Homo sapiens: one gene and its partners. The gene in region 4 interacts genetically with the main gene of each other region. Each region holds a gene or a part of one and is shown on either strand. Other genes may lie near its edges.

What was found. Genes that interact genetically often act in the same process or in processes that back each other up.
Region 1: changes in CDK12 (region 4) and ERBB2 together harm fitness more than expected from each alone (negative genetic interaction), as found in Homo sapiens cells (one large-scale study listed by BioGRID).
Region 2: changes in CDK12 (region 4) and LEO1 together harm fitness more than expected from each alone (negative genetic interaction), as found in Homo sapiens cells (one large-scale study listed by BioGRID).
Region 3: changes in CDK12 (region 4) and GET3 together harm fitness more than expected from each alone (negative genetic interaction), as found in Homo sapiens cells (one large-scale study listed by BioGRID).

The regions. Positions count from the first base shown.
Region 1 is NC_000017.11:39,720,564-39,724,063, forward strand, and holds part of ERBB2 (receptor tyrosine-protein kinase erbB-2 isoform a precursor), read left to right. Parts: intron 1-2,755; coding exon 2,756-2,894; intron 2,895-2,974; coding exon 2,975-3,097; intron 3,098-3,348; coding exon 3,349-3,447; intron 3,448-3,500. UniProt on the Homo sapiens protein: Protein tyrosine kinase that is part of several cell surface receptor complexes, but that apparently needs a coreceptor for ligand binding. Essential component of a neuregulin-receptor complex, although neuregulins do not interact with it alone.
Region 2 is NC_000015.10:51,937,525-51,940,778, reverse strand, and holds the end of LEO1 (RNA polymerase-associated protein LEO1), read left to right. Parts: intron 1-2,493; coding exon of another isoform or gene 2,494-2,518; coding exon 2,519-2,623; 3' UTR 2,624-2,754; downstream 2,755-3,254. UniProt on the Homo sapiens protein: Component of the PAF1 complex (PAF1C) which has multiple functions during transcription by RNA polymerase II and is implicated in regulation of development and maintenance of embryonic stem cell pluripotency.
Region 3 is NC_000019.10:12,740,497-12,743,996, forward strand, and holds part of GET3 (ATPase GET3), read left to right. Parts: intron 1-3,500.
Region 4 is NC_000017.11:39,520,486-39,523,985, forward strand, and holds part of CDK12 (cyclin-dependent kinase 12), read left to right. Parts: intron 1-3,500. UniProt on the Homo sapiens protein: Cyclin-dependent kinase that phosphorylates the C-terminal domain (CTD) of the large subunit of RNA polymerase II (POLR2A), thereby acting as a key regulator of transcription elongation.

The DNA.
Region 1 (3,500 bases), 200 kb from region 4:
TGTGCTAAGCAAGGGGGTATGGAGAGGAGAGGGTGACAAGAATATTGGATCAACACCCGGGAGCTCCATCTATCCCAGGATGCACTATCTTTTTTTTATTTTTTTGAGACGGAGTCTCACTCTGCCTGCAGGCTGGAGTGCAGTGGCTCCATCTCGGTTCACTGCAACCTCTGCCTCCTGGGTTCAAGCGCTTCTTGTGCCTCAGCCTCCCAAGTAGCTGGGATTACAGGCACATGCCACCACACCCAGCTAATTTTTGTATTTTTAGTAGAGACGGGGTTTCACCATGTTGGCCAGGATGGTCTCGATCTCTTGACCTCAAGATCCGCCCACCTTGGCCTCCCAAAGTGCTGGGATTACAGACATGAGCCACCGTGCCCAGCCAGATACGCTATCTTTTTATTGAGTGATTGAGACAGGGTCTTGCTCTCTTGTCCAGTCTTGAATGTGGTGGTGTAATCACAGGCTCACTGCAGCCTTGACCTCCTGGGCTCAAGTTACCCTTCTGCAGTAGCTGGGACTATAGGAGCGTGCCACCACGCCTGGGTAATTTAAAAAATTTTTTTTGTATAGACAGGGTCTCACTATGTTGCCCGAGCTGGTCTCAAACTCGTGGGCTCAAGTGATCCTCCAGTTTTGGCCTCCCAAAATGTTGGGATCACAGGAGTGAGCCACCACTCCTGGCGATGAGCCAAGTCTTTTTTTTTTTTTTTTTTTTTTGATATGGAGTCTTGCTCTGTTGCCCAGGCTGGAGTGCAATGACACGATCTTGGCTCACTGCAACCTCTGCCTCCCAGGTTCAAGCAGTTCAAGCAATCCTCCTGTCTCAGCCCCCCAGTAGCTGGGATTACAGGCATGCGCTACCACGTCCGGCTAATTTTTGTATTTTTAGTAGAGATGAGGTTTTGCCATGTTGGCCAGGCTGGTCTTGAACTGCTGACCTCAGGTGATCCACCTGCCTCGGCCTCCCAAAGTGCTGGGATTACAGGTGTGAGCCATCGTGCCTGGCGGAGCCGAGTCTTAAAAGATGACCCTGTGGAGAAATGGTGGTCCAGGCTGAAGGGACAGCCTATGCAAACACTGGGAGGTGTGGAAAATCATGACCTGTGGGTGGAAATTTTGGCTAGAACATCAAAATCATCAGGTGTACATTCCTGTACCCATGCAGCAGTCAGAATCTCTGGGGGTGGGGCCCCAAAATTGTATGCATACAGACTGTGTGCTGATTTGTGATATTACTTAGGATTTTTTGACTTTACAATGGTGGAAAAGCAATAATATACATTCAGTATAAACCGTACTTTGAATACCCATACAGCCATTCTGTTTTTCACTTTTATTTTTATTTATTTATTTATTTATTATTTATTTTGAGATGTCATTTTGCTGTTGTTACCCAGGCTGGAGTGCAATGGCGCAGTCTTGGCTCACCGCAACCTCCACCTCTCAGGTTCAAACGATTCTCCTGCTTCAGCCTCCAGAGTGGCTGGGATTACAGGCAGGCACCACCACACCCGGCTAATTTTGTATTTTTAGTAGAGACGGGGTTTCTCCATGTTAGTCAGGCTGGTCTCGAACTCGAGAGCTCAGGTGATCTGCCCATCTCAGCCTCAAGCCACCATGCCCAGCCCTACTTTCAGTATTCAATAAATTACATAGCCAGGCACCGTGGCTCACACCTGTAATCCCAGCACTTTAGGAGGCCAAGGTGGGAGGATCCTTTGAGGCCAGAAGCTCGAGACCAGCCTGGGCAACATAGTGAGACCCCATTTCTACAAAAAATAAAAAAACTAGCTGAGTGTGGTGGCGTGTGTCTGTAGTCCCAGCTACTTGGGCAGCTGAGGTGGAAAGACTGCTTGAGCCCAGAGGTCAGGGCTGCAGTGGGCCATGATCTCACCACTGCACTCAGCCTGGGCAACACAGCAAGGCCCTGTCTCAAAAATAAATAAATAAATAACACAAACTTATTTAACAGTTTACTATAAAATAGGCTTTGTGTCAGATGATTCTGCCCAACTGTAAGCTGCTGGCAGTGTAAATGTTCTGAGCACGTGTAAGCCAGGCTAGGTGTCTTAAATGCATTTTCAGTTTCAACTTAGAATTGGTTTATCAGGACGTAGCCCCTTGGTGTTGAGGGGCATGTGTATTAACAGTCTCCTTAGTGACTTTTTTTTTTTTGAGATGGAGTCTTGCACTGGCCGTAGTGCAGTGGCACAATCTCAGCTCACTGCAACCTCTTGTCTCCCGGGTTCAAGCGATTCTCCTGCCTCAGTCTCCCAAGTAGCTGGGATTACAGGCACCCACACCACGCCCAGCTAATTTTTGTGTGTGTGTATTTTTAGTAGAGACGGGGGTTTCACTATGTTGGCCAGGCTGGTCTCGAACTCCTGACCTTGTGATCTGCCCACCTCAGACTCTCAAAGTGCTAGGATTCCAGGCATGAGCCACCGCGCCCAGAGTCCTTAGTGATTTTTACACCATGAATTGTTGAAGCCCTAAGCCAGAGCCAAGGGCAAGAGTATAGAGAATCTGGAGATGCGGAGAGGGTTCTGATTGCCTACAAGGAGTTTGGACTTTATTGTGGAGGCAGCGGGGAGCCAAGGCAGGTTTTAGAGTAGGAGAGGGTCCAAGCCTGTGGGTCACCCTTCCGACTTCCCTTTCCGAATGCCAAACACCTTCATGTCCCCCGTGGGCCCCCTTTGTCCCTCCCACCCCAAACTAGCCCTCAATCCCTGACCCTGGCTTCCGCCCCCAGCCCTCTGACGTCCATCATCTCTGCGGTGGTTGGCATTCTGCTGGTCGTGGTCTTGGGGGTGGTCTTTGGGATCCTCATCAAGCGACGGCAGCAGAAGATCCGGAAGTACACGATGCGGAGACTGCTGCAGGAAACGGAGGTGAGGCGGGGTGAAGTCCTCCCAGCCCGCGTGGGGTCTGCACCGGCCCCCGGCACTGACCCACCACCCCCTCACCCCAGCTGGTGGAGCCGCTGACACCTAGCGGAGCGATGCCCAACCAGGCGCAGATGCGGATCCTGAAAGAGACGGAGCTGAGGAAGGTGAAGGTGCTTGGATCTGGCGCTTTTGGCACAGTCTACAAGGTCAGGGCCAGGTCCTGGGGTGGGCGGCCCCAGAGGATGGGGGCGGTGCCTGGAGGGGTGTGGTCGGCAGTTCTGATGGGAGGGGCAAGAGCTGGAGGCAGTGTTTGGGGGAGGGCAGTTACAGCGGAGAAGGGAGCGGGGCCAAGCCCTAGGGTGGTGAAGGATGTTTGGAGGACAAGTAATGATCTCCTGGAAGGCAGGTAGGATCCAGCCCACGCTCTTCTCACTCATATCCTCCTCTTTCTGCCCAGGGCATCTGGATCCCTGATGGGGAGAATGTGAAAATTCCAGTGGCCATCAAAGTGTTGAGGGAAAACACATCCCCCAAAGCCAACAAAGAAATCTTAGACGTAAGCCCCTCCACCCTCTCCTGCTAGGAGGACAGGAAGGACCCCATGGCTGC
Region 2 (3,254 bases), on a different chromosome or scaffold from region 4:
ATTATAATTTTTTTTTTTGGTAAAGACAAAATGTCTTACCATGTTGCCCAGGTTGGTCTCACTCAAACTCCTGGCCTCAAGTGATCCTCCCACTTTGGCCTCCCAAAGCCCTGCGTTTACAGGTATGAGCCACTGCACCCATTCCCTTTGCTGTGTTTTTCTGTGCTTATGTGTAGCTGCCAGAGAAGTCAGTCCTTGGCAGGCCTTTTTTTTTTTTTGAGACGGAGTCTCGCTCTGTCGCCCAGGCTGGAGTGTGGTGGTGTGGTCTCAGCTCACTGCAACCTCCATCTCCCGGGTTTAAGCAATTCCCTTGCCTCAGCCTCCCAAGTAGCTGGGATTACAGGTGCCCGCCATCACGCCTGGCTAATTTTTTTGTAGTTTTAGTAGAGATGGGGTTTCACCATGTTGGCTGGGCTGGTCTTGAACTCCTGACCTCGTGATCTGCCCACCTCGGCCTCCCAAAGTGCTGGGATTACAGGCGTGAGCCACCACGCCCAACCTTTTTTTTTTTTTTTTTTTTTTTTGATACGGAGTCTCCCTCTGTCGCCCAGGCTGGAGAGCAGTGGTGTGATTTCTGCCCACTGCAACCTCCACCTCCTGGGTTCAAGTGATTCTCCTGCCTCAGCCTCCTGAGTAGCTGGGATTACAGGCATGCGCCACCACGCCTGGCTAATTTTTTGTATTTTTAGTAGAGACGGGGTTTCACTGTCTTGGTCAGGCTGGTTTCAAACTCCTGACCTCGTGATCTGCCCGCCTTGGCCTCCCAAAGTGCTGGGATTACAGGCGTGAGCCATCGCGCCCGGCCGGTCCTTGGCAGGCTTTCTAAAGCAGAATTTCACAGCTTCTTACTCCAGAGGATGGATTAGGACTGGTGCCAGTGAGACTTCTTTGGGAGAGCCCTGGCCATCTCCTGGCTGCTGCTGTCCAGGGGCCTTTAGGACAGGCTGTACCATCTTTTAGAATTACCATGCTAGTTCTTTTAGTGATTCAAATTTCATCTCATTAAAGGATTTTAGAGCTGAAAAGACAAACACACCAAGGCTCACTTTTGGAAGGTTACCAAAAAATAGTGATTGCATGTAAAACGTTTTAAGATTTTTCCTTTGGAAATTAAAAGACAAGTAGTGTGATTGAATGTGCTCTTTGCCTGTGGCGCTGGGAGTATTTGGGTTTGCTCTAGCCTGCAGAATAGAAAGGAGGGGCTCTTGTCCCTTCTTGGGGGCAGGGTCCATCTTTCAATATTGCTGTTTAGGTATTTCACTGCTGTCAGCTGGGAAGTAAATGGAGGAGGAGGACTTCTCTAAATACCTTACTGTGGATTCATAACTTCCCCCCTTTGAATTCTATGGCCTTTCAGGTCTGTGGGAATGTATTTGGGATAATAAGGCAGGAAACAAGTGTGAGATGCTATCTTGTCTGTCAGAGGGCCAGCCATGAGAACCATCAGAAAAAAGTGGGCATACCAGGTTGCATTCTCCATCTAGCAGCCTGTGGTCACAGCAGCAAGATGTCTGGCTTTCCCTAACTTCAACCTTCAAACCATTTGTTCATCCCATTTAATTTTTAATTTTTATTTATTTATTTATTTTTGAGACGGAGTCTTGCTTGCTCTGTTGCCCAGGCCGGAGTATAGTGGTGCGATCTCAGCTTACTGCAACCTTCGCCTCCTGGGTTCAAGTGATTCTCCTGCCTCAGTCTCTCGAGTAGCTGGGATTACAGGCGTGCGCCACCACACCTGGCTAATTTTTGTATTTTTAGTAGAGATGGAGTTTTGCCATGTTGGCCAGTCTGGTCTCAAACTCCTGACCTCAGGTGATCCACCCCCTTTGGCCTCCCAAAGTGCTGGGATTACAGGCATGAGCCATCATGCCCGGCCCATCCCATTTAGTGTCAGTTTGTTTTAATCAGTATTTGATATTTAGATACTGACATGTTCAAATTCTATCTATCTGTAAAAAATGTTTTTTAGGTAACTTCCTAAATTATTTGTTTCTGTTAGAACGTTTGTACAGAATGATTTTAAACAGAGGAAACTTGTTTATAGATGCCCTTTAATGTCATCAAATATTTTCTTAAAAACCTTTATGATGTTTTTAATGCATTGAAACAAATTGTTCCAAAAAAACCAAATCAACAGTCTTTAAAATACTGAATTTTAGATAATGAAAAGAAGTGAAATGCTGAGGAGGCAGAGAAAAAAAATTTGAGAAATTACCTGATCATGGTAAAAATATCCTGACAGGACCAGTGGTTAGACAGGCAGAACTTCCTCGGGAGAGCCCCGCCCCTTCTGTGGCAAATCCTGTCTCCAGTTTCCTGCACATCCTACTCTGTGTTCAAAGGTTTCCCTGTGAGAGATTAGTTCACAGTTGCTGACACCTCACAATCTCCCTCACAACCTGCAGGAACCGTTACTTTGAGTTGTCAGAGGGTCATTCAGCTCATAGCTACTTTTCATAAACCATCCTAAAAATGTTCTTTATTGACTTGTAGATTTGTAAAAATTGTATCTGTTTAGGAAGGTGAACCTTCCGGAAAGAGAAAAGCAGAAGATGATGATAAAGCAAATAAAAAGCATAAGAAGTATGTGATCAGCGATGAAGAGGAAGAAGATGATGATTGAAGTATGAAATATGAAAACATTTTATATATTTTATTGTACAGTTATAAATATGTAAACATGAGTTATTTTGATTGAAATGAATCGATTTGCTTTTGTGTAATTTTAATTGTAATAAAACAATTTAAAAGCAAGTCTCTATGTTTAAGAAATCTACTTTTCCGGCCAGGCGCGGTGGCTCATGCCTGTAATCCCAGCACTTCGGGAGGCCGAGGCAGGTGGATCACAAGGTCGTGGTGGCGGGTGCCTGTAGTCGCAGCTACTCGGGAGGCTGAGGCGGGGGAATTGGTTGAACCCAGGAGGCAGAGGTTGCAGTTAGCCGAGATCGCGCCACTGCACTCCAGCCTGGCGACAGAGCAAGACTCTGTCTCAAAAAAAAAAAAAAATCTACTTTTCCCAAAGCGAACTGATTTTGTTAATGCTTTAAACAAACAAAGTCTTAGGTCTCAGTGAATTCCTGCTGCTCTCTCAACCCCCTTCCTCTCATTCCCCACAAAGAAGCCTTCTGGGCCAGGCTGAGATTCTCTCACAATTCTGGAGACTTGGAGTCCAAAATCAAGGTGTGGGACGGCCATGCTGCCTCTGAAGATTCTTGACAGGGATCCTTCCTTGCCTCTCAGTTTCTGGTAGTTCC
Region 3 (3,500 bases), on a different chromosome or scaffold from region 4:
AAACCTCATCTCTACTAAAAATACAAAAAAATTAGCCAGGTATGGTGGCGGGCACCTGTAGTCCCAGCTACTCCGGAGGCTGAGGCAGGAGAATGGCGTGAACGCGGGAAGTGGACCTTGCAGTGAGCCGAGATCGCGCCACTGCTTTACAGCCTGAACAACGGAGCGAGACTCAACAAAAAATAATAAATAAAAATAAAATAAAATAAAGAGATGCTGCAGAGTGAGGATGCTGGCAGAGGACAGTCCTCAGGTGGGATGAGCTCCATCCAGCATACAGACCCAGAACTTGGGCGCTGCCAGGGTCAGGGACTGGGAGGGAAACAGGAGGAATTGGGGCACTTCCCGGGCAGAGATGAGGGTGTTGGCAGCCAATGGCTTCTCTTTCTCACCAAGGAACAGGCAAGGGTCTCAGCAGTGAATGGGATAGAAGTTTGAGGAGGGAGAAAATACCACATAAACACTTATTAAGGTAGCAGGGGGAACCAGAATTGTCTGGATCATCAAGTGCCCATTGGAGATTTGTGTTCAGAAGAGGGGAGCAAGGGCGGGCGTGGTGGCTCATGCCTGTAATCCCAGCACTTCGGGAGGCTGAGGCAGGTGGATCAGAAGGTCAGGAGTTAAAGACCAGCCTAGCCAAGATGGTGGAACTCCATCTCTACTAAAAATACAAAAATTAGCTGGGCATGGTGGCTCACGCCTGTAATCCCAGCACTCTGGGAGGCCGAGGTGGGCGGATCACAAAGTCAGGAGATTGAGACCAGCCTGGCTAACAGGGTGAAACCCCATCTCTACTAAAAATACAAAAAGTTAGCCGGGCGTGATGGCGGGTGCCTTTAATCCCAGTTATTCGGGAGGCTGAGGCAGGAGAATGGCGTGAACGCGGGAGGTGGAGCTTACAGTGAGCCTAGATCGCGCCACTGCACTCCAGCGTGGGTGACAGAGCAAGACTCCATCTCAAAAAAAAAAATACAAAAATAAGCCAGGCACGGTGGCTCACGCCTGTAATCCCAGCACTTTGGGAGGCTGAGGCGGGCAGATCACCTGAGGTCGGGAGTTCGAGACCAGCCTGACCAATATGGTGAAACCCCGTCTCTACTAAAAATACAAAAATTAGCCTTGCGTGGTGGCCGGCACCTGTAGTCCCAGTTACACGGGAGGCTGAGGCAGGAGAATTGCTTGAACCTGGGAGACGGAGGTTGCAGTGAGCCGAGATCATGCCACTGCACTCCAGCCTGGGATACAGAGCGACACTCCATCTCAAAAAAAAAAAATTAGTTGGGCCTGGTGGTGGGCGCCTGTAATCCCAGATACTCGGGAGGCTGAGGCAAAGAATTGCTTGAACCTGGGAGGCGGAGGTCACAGTGAGTCGAGATTGTGCCACTGTACTCCAACCTGGATGACAGAGCGAGACTCCGTCTCCAAAAGGGTGAGGAGCAAGATGGGAATACTCTTCAGGAGTGTTCGGCCCTCAAGTGCAGTGATACTAAAGAGCTAGAAAGCCATACCTATCATTTCAGTGCTTGCAGAGACTGAGACAAGAGGATCACGTGAGGTCAGGAGTTCAAGACCAGCCTGGGCAACAAAGGGAGACCCTTTCTCTACAAAAAACAAACAAAATTAGCTGGGCATGGTGGTGTGTGCCTATAGTCCCAGTAAGTTGGTAGGTTGAGGCAGGAGGATCATTTGAGCCTAAGAGTTTGAGGCTGCAATGAGCTATGTATGAGATGGTATCTTTTTTTTTTTTTTTTTTGAGACTGAGTTTCACTCTGTCACCCAGGCTGGAGTGCAGTGGTGTGATCTCAGCTCACTGCAACCTCTACCTCCTGAGTTTAAGCGATTCTCCTGCCTCAGCCTCCCAAGTAGCTGTGATTACAGGCGCCCGCCACCACATCCGGCTAATTTTTGTTTTGGGGGGGTTTTTTTTGTTTGTTTTGAGACGGAGTCTTATTCTGTCGCCCAGGATGGAGTGCAGTGGCGCAATCTCGGTTCACTGCAACCTCTTCCTCCCGATTTCAAGTGATTCTCCTGCCTCAGCCTCCCGAGTAGCTGGGACTCCAGGTGCATGCCACCATGCCCGGCTAATTTTTAGTATTTTTAGTAGAGACGGGGTTTCACCATGTTAACCAGGATGGTCTCGATCTCCTGACCTCGTGATCCACCCGCCTTGGCCTCCCAAAGTGCTGGGATTACAGGCGTGAGCCACCGCGCCTGGCCTGTATTTTTTTTTAGTAGAGACGGGGTTTCAACATGTTGGCCAGGCTGTTTTCAATCTCCTGACCTCAAATGATCTGCCTGGCTTGGCTTCCTAATACACTGGGATTACAAGTGTGAGCTACCGCGCCCGGCCAAGACGCTATCTCTAAAAGAAAGAAAAAAAAAGCTGGAAGTAACCAGAGTGGGGGATTTTGCCAACAGCAAGGGGAAAGGGAGTGTTTGCAGAGGGAACCTGTGGAGGCTGGGCTGGATAAGGGTGCCAGCCAAGAGGAACACTGACAGTTTACAGGGGCCAGGTGAGGGGATGAAGTAGTCCAAAGAAGCTTAAAATATATGAAGCATAAGAAGAGGGTGCAGTGATGAGTGGGCAAGCTCCCCAACAGGGAATGACCCCTAAGGCCAGCGAGTTGGGTACTTCCCCATGGGACCCATGAAGTTACCAAGAAGAGGTGACAGAGGAGGAAGATAAAGAGGGAGGCATTGGCCGGGCATGGTGGCTCATACCTGTAATCCCAGCATTTTGGGAGGCTGAGGTGGGTGGATCACCTGAGGTTGGGAGTTGAAAACCAGCCTGACCAACATAGAGAAGCCCCGTCTCTACTAAAAATACAAAATTAGCTGGGGTGGTGGCGCATGCCTGTAATCCCAGCTACTCAGGAAGCTGAGGCAGGAGAATCACTTGAACCCTGGAGGCGGAGGTTGCAGTGAGCCAAGATCACGCCATTGTCCAGCCTAGACAACAAGAGTGAAACTCCATCTCAGAAAAAAAAAAAATTACAAAAATTAGCCAGGCATGGCCAGGCGTGATGGCTCGTGCCTGTAATCCCAGCACTTTGGGAGGCCGAGGTGGGTGGATCACGAGGTCAGGAGATCGCCACCATCCTGGCTAACACAGTGAAACCCCGTCTCTACTAAAAATACAAAAAATTAGCCAGGTGTGGTGGCGGGCGCCTGTAGTCCCAGCTACTCACTGCACTCCAGCCTGGGTGACAGAGCGAGACTCCATCTCTTTTTTTTTTTTTTTTTTTTTTTTGAGATGGAGTCTCGCTCTGTCGCCCAGGCTGGAGTGCAGTGGCGTGATCTCAGCTCACTGCAGGCTCCGCCCCCTGGGGTTCATGCCATTCTCCTGCCTCAGCCTCCCAAGTAGCTGGGACTACAGGCACCCGCCACCTCGCCCGGCTAATTTTTTGTATTTTTAGTAGAGACGGGGTTTCACCGTGTTAGCCAGGATGGTCTCGATCTCCTAACCTCAGGTGATCTGCCTGCCTCGGCCTCCCAAAGTG
Region 4 (3,500 bases):
GTTCAAGCGATTCTCCTGCCTCAGCCTCCCGAGTAGCTGGGACTACAGACACACACCACCACACCCAGCTAATTTTTGTATTTTTAGTAGAGACGGGGTTACACCTTGCTGGCCCAGCTGGTCTCGAACTCCTGACCTCAGGTGACCCACCCTGGCCTCCGAAAGTGCTGGGATTACAGGCGTAAGCCACTGCGTCCAGCGTGTTTTTGTTGTTGTTGTTGTTGTTGTTGTTTTGAGATGGAATCTTGCTCTGCCTCCTCCACCTCCCGGGTTCTAGCGATTCTCCTGCCTTAGCCTTGCAAGTAGCTAGGATTACAGGTGCCTGCCACCACACCCGGCTAATTTTTTTGTATTTTTGTTTCATTTTGTTTTGTTTTTTGAGATGGAGTTTCGCTCTTGTTCCCCAGGCTGGAGTACAATGGCGCAATCTCAGCTCGCCGCAACCTCTGCTTCCCAGGTTCAAGCGATTCACCTGCCTCAGCCTTCCCAAGCTGAAATTACAGGCACGTGCCACCATGCCCAGCTAATTTTGTGTTTTTAGTAGAGACAGAGTTTCTCCATGTTGGTCAGGTTGGTCTCGAACTCCCGACCTCAGGTGATCTGCCCACCTCGGCCTCCCAAAGTGCTGGGATTACAGGCATGAGCCACAGTGCCTGGCCATTTTTTTGTATTTTTAGTAGAGATGGGGTTTCACCATGTTGGCCAGGCTGGTCTTGAACTCCTGCCCATCTTGGCCTCTCAAAGTGCTGGGATCACAGGTGTGAGCCACCGTGCCTGGCCTGTTTGTTTGTTTGTGTGTTTTGAGACGGAGTTTCACTCTTCGCATCCAGGCTGGAGTGCAGTGGTGTGATATTGGCTCACTGCAATCTCCGCCTCCCAGTTTCAAGCAATTCTCCTGCCTCAGCCTCCCAAGTAGCTGGAATTACGCCACCATGCCCGGCTAATTTTTGTATTTTTAGTAGAGACAGGGTTTCATCACGTTGGCCGGGCTGATCTTGAACTCCTGGCCTCAGGTGATCCGCCCGCCTTGGCCTCCCAAGGTGCCGGGATTACAGATGTGAGCTACTGCTCCCAGCCTTTTTTGTTTTTTCCGAGACGGAGTCTCGCTCTGTCGCCCAGGCTGGAGTGCAGTGGCGTGATCTCGGCTCACTGCAACCTCCATCTCCTGGATTCAAGCAGTTCTCCTGTCCCAGCCTACTGAGTAGCTGGGATTATAGGCGCAGGCCACCACGCCCGACTAATTTTTTTGTATTTTTAGTAGAGACAGGGTTTCACCATGTTGGCCAAGGTGGTCTCAAACTCCTGACTTCAGGTGATCTGCCTGCCTCAGCCTCCCAAAGTGTTGGGATTACAGGCATGAGCCACCACTCCCAGCCTTTTTTTTTTTTTTTCCAATTGTAGAAATGGAGTCTCACAATGTTGTCCAGACTGTCTCAAACTCCTGGGCTCAAGTGATTCTCCCGCCTCAGCCTTCCAAAGTCATGGGATTACAGGCAGGAGACACATGCTTGGCCTCCCTCTGGTTTTTGCTCTTAACCATTCCTCCAGCTGTAATCATGCATGTCTCTGGTGACCATGTATATCTCACACTTGCAGAGATAGTCCCAGTTTTTTGGGGTTTTTTTTGTTATTATTTTTTTTGAGACAGAGTTTCACTCTTGTTGCCCAGGCTGGAGTGCAGTGGTGTGATCTCGACTCACCACAAGCGTTTCCTGCCTCAGCCTCCCGAGTAGCTGGGATTACAGGTATGCGCCCCCATGCCTGGCTAATTTTGTATTTTTAGTAGAAACAGAGTTTCACCATATTGGTGAGACTGGTCTTGAAGTCCCGACCTCAGGTAATCTGCCTGCCTCGGCCTCCGAAAGTGCTGGGATTACAGGCGTGAGCCACTGAACCCGGCCAACAGTCCCAGTTTTAAATGGTTTGCATCACTGCCAGTTTTTTTTGTTGTTTTTGTTTTTTTCTGAGACAGGGTCTCTCACTCTGTCACCCAGGCTGGAGTGCAGTGGCACAATCTCAACTCACTGCAACCTCCACCTCCCGGCTTCAAGCGATTCCCGTGCCTCAGCCTCCTGAGTAGCTGGATTACAGGAGCCCGGCACCACAGCTGGCTAATTTTTGTATTTTTAGTAGAGATGAGGTTTCACCATGTTGACCAGACTTGTCTCCAATTCCTGACCTCAGGTGATTCGCCTGCCTCGTCCTCCCAAAGTGCTGTGATTATAGGCGTGAGCTACCGCACCCAGCCAGATTACTGAATTTTGATGTAAGAAATAAGATCTTTCGGTCGAGCGCGGTCGCTCACACCTGTAATCCCAGCACTTTGGGAGGCCGAGGTGGATGGATCACCTGAGGTCAGGAGTTCAAGAGAGCCTGGCCAACATGGTAAAACCCCGTCTCTCCTAAAAATACAAAAAATTAACCAGGTGTGGTGGTGTATGCTTGTAGTCCTGGCTACTCAGGAGGCTGAGGGAGGAGAATCGCCTGAACTCGGGAGGTGGAGGTTGCAGTGAGCCGAGATTGTGCCAGTGCATTCCTGCCTAGACCATAGAGTGATACTCCATCTCAAAAAATTAAAGTAACATAAAAGAAATATGATCTTTTAATATGTCTCTATTTAATTAAAATCTTATGAATGCCTCTGTATTGTATTGGAGCTTCAGAGATTCATATCCCACATTATAGCACATAAAAAGTCTTTTATCTGGCCTGGCACGGTGGCTCATGCCTGTAATCCCAGCACTTTGGGAGGCTGAGGCAGGCAGATCACCTGAGGTCATGAGTTCGAGACCAGTTTGGCCAACATAGTGAAACCCCGTCTCTACTAAAAAATACAAAAATTAGCCAGGCGTAGTGGCGTGTACCTGTAGTCCCAGCTACTCAGGGAGACTAAGGCAGGAGAATCACTTGAACCTGGGAGGCGGAGGTTGCAGTGAACTGAGATTGCACCACTGCACTCTAGCCTGGGCAACAGAGCAAGACTCTGTCTCAAAAGAAAAAGAAAAAAAAAGTATTTTATCTTTGAATTTGTCAGTGACAGTATTATAGCTTTAATGTCAAATTTTGGAGGTCATTTTCTTAAGAAAGACTACATGTCTTAAAAATGGATAGGATGTTAGTTCATGAGTAGGTAGTAATTCTAAATCTGATTGCTCCAAAGAAATGTCCAAATTCATTTATTTTTTTGAGACAGACTCTTGTTCTGTTGCTCAGGCTGGAGTGCAGTGGTGTGATCTCGGCTCACTGCAGCCTCCACCTCCCAGGTTCAAGCAATCCTCCTGCTTCAGCCTCCTTAGTAGCTGGGATTACAGGCACACACCACCACACTTGGCTAATTTTTGTATTTTTAGCAGAGACCAGGTTTCACCATGTTGCCAGGCTAGTCTCGAACTCCTGACCTCATGATCCGCCTGCCTCTACCTCCCAAAGTGCTGGGATTACAGGCATGAGCTGCCGCGCCCAGCCAAATTCATTTATTACACTAGAATGTTGATACATTG